2 separate regions of the Homo sapiens genome follow, and region 1 is linked to region 2. Evidence: fine-mapped expression QTL. A gene starts in region 2. The other region holds a variant in brackets. All regions are shown on one strand. Distances are from middle to middle.

Region 1 (5,379 bases), 68 kb before region 2:
AGAACGTAGTTCTTGATTTAAAAAAACAGAAAGGGGAGGAGGATGACCTTAACTACAAATAATATTCCACTGCAACATTATTGCTGTAAAACTTCCAAGCTGGCTGTTCTTCCAGATGCTCTCTTTTGATGGCTGTAGTGGCTGACAGATTTATATTTACATGTTCAAAACAATTAATGCTTCCATTTATTCATAGATTCTCTGAGGTTCCCGTAGAACCACACCACCTTCTGTCATGGCACTTTGTAGTCGTTTCATCTGGTTTTGAAAATCAGAAAAAAAAGGAAAAGATTAAGTCAGCAGCACGAGTAGGCTGAAAATACTTTCACCTTCCAAAAGACAGAAATAAATTGATTTGTTCTTGCTAACTTCCCAGCCTACAACGGTTTTTCAGAAAGTGATCTTAATAATGATGTAAGTAAAAAGGAAATGTAGAGATGTCAAGGTTCAGCAGCATTTCAAAATATTATATGGACAAGATGTCAATATATGAACAGGAAATACAGTGGCTGACATCATGGACTACAGAATCAGTCACCCTGGGTTTGAAATCCACCATACACTGACTCTGGGCAAGTAAGCCTCAGTTTATTTCTGTATAGAATGAGAGTACTAGTCCCTACCCTATGGACTGATGTGAGGATTAAATGAAGTAACACTGTTGAGTACTCACCAAAGGGTCTGACACATGGAAAGTATTTGGTAAGTAAAAACTGTTATTATTATGTAAGTTATCTAATGCCAAGAATTAACACAATACCTTTTCAATAAGTACATGAAAACAAAAATACCGAGTCTGAGGCTGCCTCCCACGGGGTTGGTTGGTAGACCATGAAGTTGATTCCCGCCTCTAAGCATCTCTGTGCCAGCACTCGTCCTATACTCTCACAAGCCACCACATTTCTGGTACTATAAAGGTGCTTTTTAATAGCCCACTCACGAGTGGAGGCCGAAACCACAACCTTGCCATTCTGATGCTCCACAAGTGCTTCTACATGATGCTGAGTCCTTATAACTCGCAACCTAAATGGGGTGAGAAGATAATAAAATCACAGAAGAATCTGTATCCTAAAGTTACATTAATTGAGGTGAATAAATGACTAAATATTTTTCAACAATCCAGTGTTTGGTTCATTTACTTCAACATATTTAACTTGGATTTTGCTTGGGAAAAGTATTTTTCCTCCGCCTTTATGAGAATATCCTCAATAATAACAAACTAAATAGTTCAAGTATCATGAAGAAATTTGTTTCTGAAGAGCTGAGTTTTATTTACAGATCTACTTCAAAAAGAGATTTGAAGAGACAGAGCTAAGTTACTGAACATATGCATGACATGGATATACTTACTCTTTGCTTTTATTTATAGCTAGCACCAAAATAAATATAAGACGGAACAAAAATTTAAATGCAAAAACTGAAATCATAACAGTACTAGAAGAAAACATGAGAAATTTTTTTATAATCTCAAGGTATGCATATTTAAATATGACATCAAACCATGTCATATGGCTTTTATTATTTTTCAGAAACAGGGTCTCACTGTCACCCAGCTCGGAGTACAGCAGTGCAACCACAGCTCACTGTAGCCTCAAACCCCTAGGCTCAAGCAACCCTCCTGCCTTAGTCTCCCAAGTAGTTGGCATTACAGGTGCATGCCACTGCACCAAGATAATTTTTATTTTGTAGAGACAGGGTCTCCCTATGTTGCCAAGGCTGGTGTCAAACTCCTGGCCTCAAGCGACCCACCCTTCTCAACCTCCCAAAGCACTGGGATTACAGGCATGAGCCACTGTGTCCAGCTTCATATGGCCATTTTTTTTTTTTTTTGAGACAGGGTCTGCCTCTGTCTCTCAGGCTAGAGTACAGAGGCACGAACTTGGCTCACAGCAGCCTCTGCCTCCTGGGATCAAGTCATCCTTCCACCTCAACCTCCCAAGTGGCTGGGACTACAGGCGCATGCCACTGCACCCAGCTAATTTTTGTATTTTTTTGTAGAGACAGGGTTTGCCATATTGCCCAGGCTCGTCTCAAACTCCTAAGCTCAAGCAGTCTACCCACCTCAGCCTCCTAATGTGCTGGGGTTACAGGCTGAGCCACCATGCCCAGCCCCTCATATGGCATAAAAAAGAAATGATGGACAAAATTTGCTGCATGGTTAAAAAAAAAAAAAAAAAAAAA[G/AG]TAAAATGAAGTCAAAAGAAAAGCAATGAAACAAAAAATATTTTAGGCTGGGCATGTGACTCAAGCTTGTAATCCCAGCACTTTGGAAGGCTGAGGCAGGAGGACTGCTAGAGCCAAGGAGTTCAAGACCAGCCCAGGCAACACAGTGACACTCTGTCTCTACAAAAAATAGAAAAAATCAGCCAGGCGTGATGGTGTGCACCTGTAGTCCCAGCTACTTGGGAGGCTGAGGTGGGAAGATTGTTTGAGCCCAGGAGGTTGTGGCTGCAGTGAGCCGTGATAATGCCCTGCACTCCAGCCTGGGTGACAGAGTGAAACCCTGTCACAAAAATATAAAAAGAAAAAATATTTTAAACTCATATATTGTTCAAAGAGCTAATTTACACAATATGTTAAAAGCCTCCTATAATTAACAAGAAAATGATCAATAACTTGTGGGGAAAAGCAAGAGATCAGATTGTTACTGTCTGTGTAGAAAGAAGTAGACATAGGAGACTCCATTTTGTTCTGTACTAAGAAAAATTCTTCTGCCTTGAGATTCTGTTAATCTATGACCTTACCCCCAACCCCCTGCTCTCTGAAATACGTGCTGTGTCAAACTCAGGGTTAAATGGATTAAGGGTTGTGCAAGATGTGCTTTGTTAAACAGATGCTTGAAGGCAGCATGCTCGTTAAGAGTCATCACCACTCCCTAATCTCAAGTACCCAGGGACACAAACACTGCGGAAGGCCGCAGGGACCTCTGCCTAGGAAAGCCAGGTATTGTCCAAGGTTTCTCCCCATGTGATAGACTGAAATATGGCCTCGTGGGAAGGGAAAGACCTGACCGTCCCCCAGCCTGACACCCGTAAAGGGTCTGTGCTGAGGAGGATTAGTATAAGAGGAAGGCATGCCTCTTGCACTTGAGACAAGAGGAAAGCATCTGTCTCCTGCCTGTCCCTGGGCAATGCACTGTCTCGGTATAAAACCCGATTGTACGTTCCATCTACTGAGTTAGGGAAAAACCGCCTTAGGGCTGGAGGTGGGACATGCGGGCAGCAATACTGCTTTGTAAAGCATTGAGATGTTTATGTGTATGCATATCTAAAAGCACAGCACTTGATTCTTTACTTTGTCTATGATGCAAAGACCTTTGTTCACATGTTTGTCTGCTAATCCTCTCCCCACTATTGTCTTGTGACCCTGACACATCCCCCTCTCAGAGAAACACCCACGAATGATCAATAAATACTAAGGGAACTCAGAGGCTGGCGGGATCCTCCATATGCTGAACGCTGGTTCCCTGGGTCCCCTTATTTCTTTCTCTATACTTTGTGTCTTTTTCTTTTCCAAGTCTCTCGTTCCACCTAACAAGAAACACCCACAGGTGAGGAGGGGCAACCCACCCCTTCATAACTTAATAGGCAAAGCATTATCCAAACAGACTGTTCACAGAAAAGAAAAATATTAATGACTCAAATTCACAAAAATATGCTCAATCTCACTAACAAAATGCATGGACAAGACAATTCGATGCAACACTGTAATCATAAAAGATAATCACCCTCTAGGAGCGAGTTAAGTAAAATCCATGCAATAGTATTCCATACAGTTACTGAAATGAATGAAATAATGCTTTATAATGATGAAGATAATAGTTAACATTTACTGAGCACTTAGTATATGCCAGGCCTGTCTTAACGGTTTATAGATAAAGCTTATGTCTCAATTCTATTATTTTTTCTATATTTTTTTTTAGCTGCAGAAACTAACACAGAAAGGTTAAGTAACTTGAAAAAGATTAAAACTAGTAAGTAATGGAGCCATGGTTTAAGTCCCAGTGTCTGGCTCCAGAGTCAATGCTCTTAACTACCATGAAGAATCTCCAAGATGTATTTTTAAGTGCGTGCTTGGGGTGGTTGAGGGTGGTGGTGAAGAAAGATGCGGAAGTGTTTATCGTATGCTAAGATTTATTGTTTTTAACAGTTTTTGCTTATATGCATAGACAATCTTTAGAAGGACACACAAGAAACTGTACTCCCTTTGGATTTTATAACATACGTATATGTTACCCTTTAAAAAGTCAAGTTTAAGTTAAAGAAAACACACCCAAATCATTAGATTCTCACTAGGATTCTCAATGTGAAATAGAAGAGGCATTAGATTTGGAAATATGGAGTCTACTCCTGGTTTTCCTGGTGGCTCTAGTAAAAAATCACAATCTCTTTTTTTTTTTTTGAGACGGAGTCTCAGTCTGTTGCCCAGGCTGGAGTGCAGTGGCGCGATCTCGGCTCACTGCAAGCTCCGCCTCCCAGGTTCACGCCACTCTCCTGTCTCAGCCTCCCTAGTAGCTGGGACTACAGGTGCCTGCCACCACGCCTGGCTAATTTTTTTGTGTATTTTTAGTAGAGACGGGGTTTCACCGTGTTAGCCAGGATGGTCTTGATCTCCTGACCTCGTGATCCGCCCGCCTCGACCTCCCAAAGTGCTGGGATTACAAACGTGAGCCACCGCGCCCGGCCAAAAATCACAATCTGTTAAACCAGGAGTCAACAATCTTTTTCCACAAAGTGCCAGATAGTAAATATTTTAGGCTTTCTAGGTCCAATAGCTTCTGTTGAAACTGTTCGACTCAGCCATTGTAGTGCTAGAACAGCCAGGTGATGCGTAAACAAATGAGAGTAGGTACAGCTAGGTTCTAAGAACCTGGGCAACGAAATTTGATTTTCATTTAATTTTCCCAAGCCACAAAATATTCTTTTGATTTTTTTTTTAACTTAAAAAAAGTAAAAACAAGTTTTTAGCTCACAATCTACCTTTGGCCCACGGGCCGTAGTTTGCTGACACTTGAACCATTTGTTCAATGAAGGGCCCGATTCATTATGTCAAAGGTCATTTCCTACTATAATATTCTGAAATTCTCTACTTTTAATATTGCGAGTAAGGCAGACAGAGAAAAAATGAGGAAATACATCTTTAGTTATTTTTAATGATCCAAATATTAAATCAAAGTAATGCGTTGGGGCCGAGTGCAGTGGCTCACGTCTGTAATCCCAGCACCTTGGGAGGCTGAATCAGGCAGATCTCTCGAGCTCAAGAGCTCGAGACCAGCCTGGGCAGCAGCAAAACCCCATCTCTACAAAAAATACCAGAAAAAAAAAAAAAGAAAAAGAAAAAAATTAGCCGGCCATGGTAGTGTGTGCCTGCAGTCCCAGATGC
Region 2 (5,379 bases):
GATAATATATCTCAGAAAATCAGGACCACCATCTACTCTTGATGCCTTAACACAGAAAAACAGCTTAGTATGGAGTTCAGTCTAGACTGGTTAGGTGCCTAGCATCCCAGATCCCAGTACCTTCCTGGCTCTTAGCATCATAAAGTTAGGTAACTCAGTTCCCTCTGAACGGAGGCAAGCGCCAGCCAAAACAACTTCAGTAAGAAGACACGGTACCTTGGCGAACAAATCATAGCTGAATGTAAGACACCAATCTGCAGACACTGTAGTAGCAAGGTACTGATGAGGAACTGAAAGGCCATCTTTTCCTTATCCTCTATCTGCCATGTGTGATTCCAAGCAAGTCTTTTAACTCTTGCAGTTTCCAAGTCAGCAAAAAGATAATTTTGCCTGTCTCACAAAGTGCTGCAAATATTAATGCTTTCAGCACAATAAAAATGCTATAGATTTTTCAAATAAAATATGAACATAATATGAACATAAAAGGCAACTTCAATGTGCACTTAGAAAAGATTAAATTCTATTAACTACATCTTCAAAGGCAGAAAATATTTACAGCAATATATTTTAGTCAGATGGAACATCTTGTTATACACAATACACAATGAAGTTTACTATTGTGGAGATACTGAAAAGTTTTTCTGTGTTAAGCTTAGTAACTACAAGAAGCAAAATATTTAGAGGCAGAAAAGTTGGAGACAACTAAAAAAATTAAAAACAAGAATAAAACCAAAATACTATCTTCAGTCTTCTTTTGCTGAAGGACCTACTAACTAACGTACAATTTTGAGGAGCAAGAAGCAAATACATAATGATCAAAACTGCTAAACAATATATTCAAGGGGATTCAATACTACATACAAGACCATAAGAGACCTTGAACGCTTTAATGTACTGTACAAATTGTGACAATGCTCATCTCCACATCACAGGGCTTTTTACACATTGTGTTTCATCTCTACCAGCTTATTTCTGACAAACAATACACAAAAATATTTTCAGCAAACATGACTCAACGTTGAATTGGAAAAGCTAGACATAAAAGAGCCATGTAAAAATAAGCAGTGCCTGGGACACACTATTATTATTACTTTTATCCTTTAGGAGTTAGCAATTCTGGTAGCTTGTCCAAATTCTGCCAATGAAAAAGTACTAAAAATACTGAACTTTTAAACCATGTGTCTGCTTAAGATACCTTAACATATAAAAGCACTGTAAGAAACACACCTACCCAAACCCTTAAAATGTAACCTCAACCTTATCACAAGCCAGCTTTGCGGACTGCAATCTTTCCCCGACTTGGCTAATCAGATGCTACTTGAATGAATTAAAATGTATCCATCTTGAAAAGATTTTTCGCTCATAGTTTTAAATTACGGTTTTAAATGTCCACAACATGTTTATCTATCGTAGAAAACTTAATGGTCAAAATTTTAAAATCCAAAAAACGAGAACTTGCGATGGATCTATGACGTCCACTTATCTTCCGAAGCAATGGAATTAACTAAAACTAGATAAAATAGGCACAAATACAACTTCCAATTGTAACATACTCATAGAAGTATTTCCCTACCAGACTAAATAATAGTTTTTTTGTTTTGTTTTGTTTTTTTTACATAATCACAGTTATGCTAGTCCTTGATAATGTTAAGCTAATCCTTTGGGATCAAACAACCAAGTGACTTTCTTATCAAAACAAGAACTCGGGCTTTTCCATTACGTGTACACAGACTTATGAAAAACGGTGAAAAAAAAATCTAGTAACTGTCTCACAGGGATCCAAGGTAAGACTTGGATTTCACAAAAATCTGCAATAATTCAGTTTCTTTCCTCAGAATGCTTATACTCATTTAAAAATGGAAGTCTACAAGAGAACGTAGTAACATCCTACTGCGTGACATGAAATGTAGGGAACGAATGTTTCTTTTTTTCCTTGCTGAACTCGTTAGTGCCGCCAGGTCCTCAGGAGAGGCCCAAGGGAGGTGAAGGGGGCGACCCCGAGGCGAGGAAAAAACGAGCGCCGCCGCTCAGCCCGGGGAGGGCATCCTCCGGCCTCCGTGAGTGGCCGGTCTCTCCGGCCGCCAGAGCACCCCTCTCAACCCGGGCCTTGGGGACGGAGGACAGAGATAAAATGGCCTCGAAGCGGCGGAAGTGTTCCCCGCAGGCGGGAAGGTAGAGCGGCTCACGAGAGACCGGTGCCGCACCAGGCCCGTGTGGCCTTTCGGGCCCTGCCCGCCCCTTACCCGCCGGGGGCGGCTGCGCATCAGCCCTCAGGCCCCGGAGGTCCCCCGCGTCCGCTCCCGCCAGCCGGCCCGCGCCTACCTCTCCAGGCAGAAGCCGCGCCGGCGCCACCGGTCGCATAGGCCGAGGCCGCGCTGCTTGCCCTGCCGCCCGGGCCCCCCGGGCCACCGCGCAGCCGGACAGCTCTGCCGCCGGCCCCGCCGCGCTCCTAGTCCCGCCGCAACCCCTGCGCTCCCCTTTATTTGTGGGTCTCGCTGCCACAAAATGGCGCTGAGGGAGGAAACCAGGCCCCGCCGCCCGGCCCCGCCCCGCCGCACGGCTCCGCTCCGCCCTGCCCCGCCCCACAGCCGGTCCGAACGCGCCGCAGGCCAGCGCCACTGCCTCCCGCCTCCCGCCTCCCGCCTCCCGCCAGCCTCCCCGCTCCGCCATGTTCGCCTTCTGGCCCACTCACAGGAGAGTCGCCTTTCAGGCGTGGCCGCAGTCACTCGCCCGCCGCCGAACCCCGCCAGGAGAGGAAAGGTGAAGGGAGGGAGGCCGTCGGCCTAGCCCGATCGGGGCCTCGAGGCACAATGGAGCAGCTGCTCCCCGGTAACACTCCCCGTCCTTTCCCAGGAGCCTGGCGCGAGCTCCGCGGGCCCCGGAGCTCAGCAAGCTCAGTAAGGGAAGCGGCCGAGGGGAGGGGCGGGCCAGCGAGGTCGGAGGTCAGCCCCAGGGCATCACGGGAAGGGAAGGTGGAAGTACTCGCCGGGGCCACCTGCGGCTGCGGGGCTGCCTCGTGCGGAGGGATCTGGGCGAAGGCGGCGCGTGATTGGCCGCTCTGTGTTCGTGACGCTCATCCGTGATGCTTCCGCGTGTCGGAGGACCAGGTGCCACCTCAAGAGAGAGGCCGTGGGCGGCGAGCCGCGGGCGTTTACTCTTAGCAGAAGCTCACCTGTAAGTTTTGAGAACTTAGAAACCGATGCCTTCCCTCTCATCAGTCGTGAGGCGCAGTCTCCTGGCCGCTGGGTTCGTTCCTCCTTGACATCTCTGGAGACGCATCGAGGAGCTATTGTTCTCTGGCGTCGGAGGTTGCGCTGTGTCCGCGGCGTTGAGGGCCCCTTGCTAACTGGAACACGGGGAAGGCGGCCCTGTGAGGTTTAGTGAACTCAATCAAAGAGGTCCTGCAAGTGGAGTAGACTCCCTGAAGTAAGACTGCCATCTGGACCGCCGAGTAATGGCGGTGTTACCTGGAGAACGTGAAACAGTCTCTAAACACTTACTAGAAGAGCACGTAATTCTTTTGATTGGTCTGTCCTTAGCCGGCTTTATCAAACCTGTTCATCCCCAAAGGAGTGTCTTGTAGTAAGGTGATTTATTAGGATAAGATTAAAGTACATTCCAGATGGTCGTAGTATATTTCCAGTGAATCAGATCGGTCTGGAGAAAATCTTTGCAACTCGTATCACAAGAGCTCTCAAAAATTGAAAACAAAAAGTGCAAAAGCCAAAGGAGAAAATGGGGAAGGACATGAACAGATGATTCTCAGAAAAAATACCGTAATGGTCTTTAAACATAGAAAGTCGCTCCACCTCACTTACAATGGAAATACACGTTGAAATTACCTTTCCTGGTGGGAGTGGAAAAATGGTTCAAGTTCCACGGAGTACAAAATTACTTGTGTTTATTCTTATACCTTGCAGTTATACTTCTAACCCTAACCTTATTCTGAAGGTGCAGCTCCACACATGGAAACAATAGGTATACAAGGTTATTGCAGTGCTATTTGTCATAGCAAAAGTTAGGGATAACCCAAATATCCGTTAATAGGGAACTGATTGGGAATGGTGCATCCATACAGTAGAACACAATGCAACCATTAAAAAGATTCAGGAAATAATCGTGTGTTGCTTTGGAATGAGTCTCAGGTTGTATTAAGTATTCACTTAAATATTTAAGTGTAGTAAGTATTCACTGTATTCAAAAGCAAAAATAAGCATATATGCTTTTATGTATTTACTTAAATACATAAAAATATATATTTATATTTAATATGAATATTTATGTGTATATGCTTATTTTCGGGGAGGAATTGGAAGGATATCCTGGAAACTTAACATTTTTAGTTGCCTATAAAGAGTGGGGGGTGGAGACAAGATTTCTCTGTCTTTGAACTTTTAGTTTTACATAGCCAAAAAAGTAAATAAAAAAGGAAACAAAGTAAATCCTAAGGTTGAAAGCAAATTGAAACAAATGAACTTAACTGTTAACTAATATAACTAAGATACACAGAAAAAATAATTATTCTTTGGGTTTTTTTTTTTTTTTTTGAGACAGTCTCACTGTGTTGCCCAGGCTGGAGTGCAGTGGTGCAATCTCAGCTCACTGCAACCTCTGTCTCCTGGGTTCAAGCGATTCTCTCAGCTCAGCCTCCTGAATAGCTGGGATTACAGGCATGCGCCACCATCCCCTGCTGATTTTTGTATTTTTAATAGAGATGGGATTTCACCATGTTGGCCAGGCTGGTCTGGAACTCCTGACCTCAGGTGATCCGCCTGCAGGTTGGCCTCCCAAAGTGCTGGGATTACAGGAATGAACCACCACCACTGGCCCCTCTGAGCTTTTGAACACAGTACTCTAGTAGTGTATCTGTGTTGTGATAGTGTAGTCTTTCCTTATATGCAGGAGATTGGATTTAGGACCTTCTGCGAGCATATACAGAAATCTGCATACTAAAGTCCCGGAGCTGAGCATAGGGAAAGTTGGTTCTTTGTGTAGGTGTGTTTTGCATCCCACTGTACTTCTGTTTTGTTTTCTTCCTTCCTTCCCTTTCCTTTCTTTTTCTTTTCTTTTTTTCTTTCTCTCCCTCTCTTCTTCCCTCCCTTCTTCCCTCCCTCCCTCTCTTCCCCCCTCCCTTCCTTCCCTTCTCTTGCTTTTCTTTTTTTTTTTCTTTTTTGAGAACAGGGTCTGACTCTGTCGTCCAGGCTGGAGTGCAGTGGTACGATCATGGCTCACTACAGCCTTGACTTCCTGGGCTCAAGCAATCCTCCCATCTCAGCCTCCCGAGTAGCTGGGACCACAGGCATGTGCCAGCACATCTAGCTAATTTTTTTCTATTTTCAGTAGAGAGCTGTGTTGCCTAGGCTGGTCTTGAACTCCTGG

The links. PIP is the estimated chance that this variant, and not a neighbour inherited with it, causes the effect.
Region 1: its variant is the best candidate, but not a certain one, in a credible set for the expression of WTAP in whole blood (INTERVAL, PIP 0.51).

What each region holds. Positions count from the first base shown.
Region 1 is chr6:159,792,931-159,798,309 of GRCh38, reverse strand. MRPL18 (mitochondrial ribosomal protein L18) reads right to left here. Exons shown (of 4, transcript NM_014161.5): 3 at 792-1,023; 4 at 1-258. The coding sequence ends at 187. Among named protein-coding and RNA genes, the nearest start is that of PNLDC1, 4.7 kb to the left of the region's middle. RefSeq lists an enhancer at 2,472-3,343. The variant G/AG (reference allele first, on the strand shown) is at 2,182.
Region 2 is chr6:159,724,647-159,730,025 of GRCh38, reverse strand. It overlaps WTAP (WT1 associated protein), which reads right to left and starts at 2,520. Exons shown (of 8, transcript NM_001270531.2): 1 at 2,323-2,520. It also overlaps a transcript of SOD2 not described here. RefSeq lists a silencer at 2,102-2,651 and enhancers at 2,114-2,711, 2,662-2,791, 3,142-3,231, 2,712-3,309.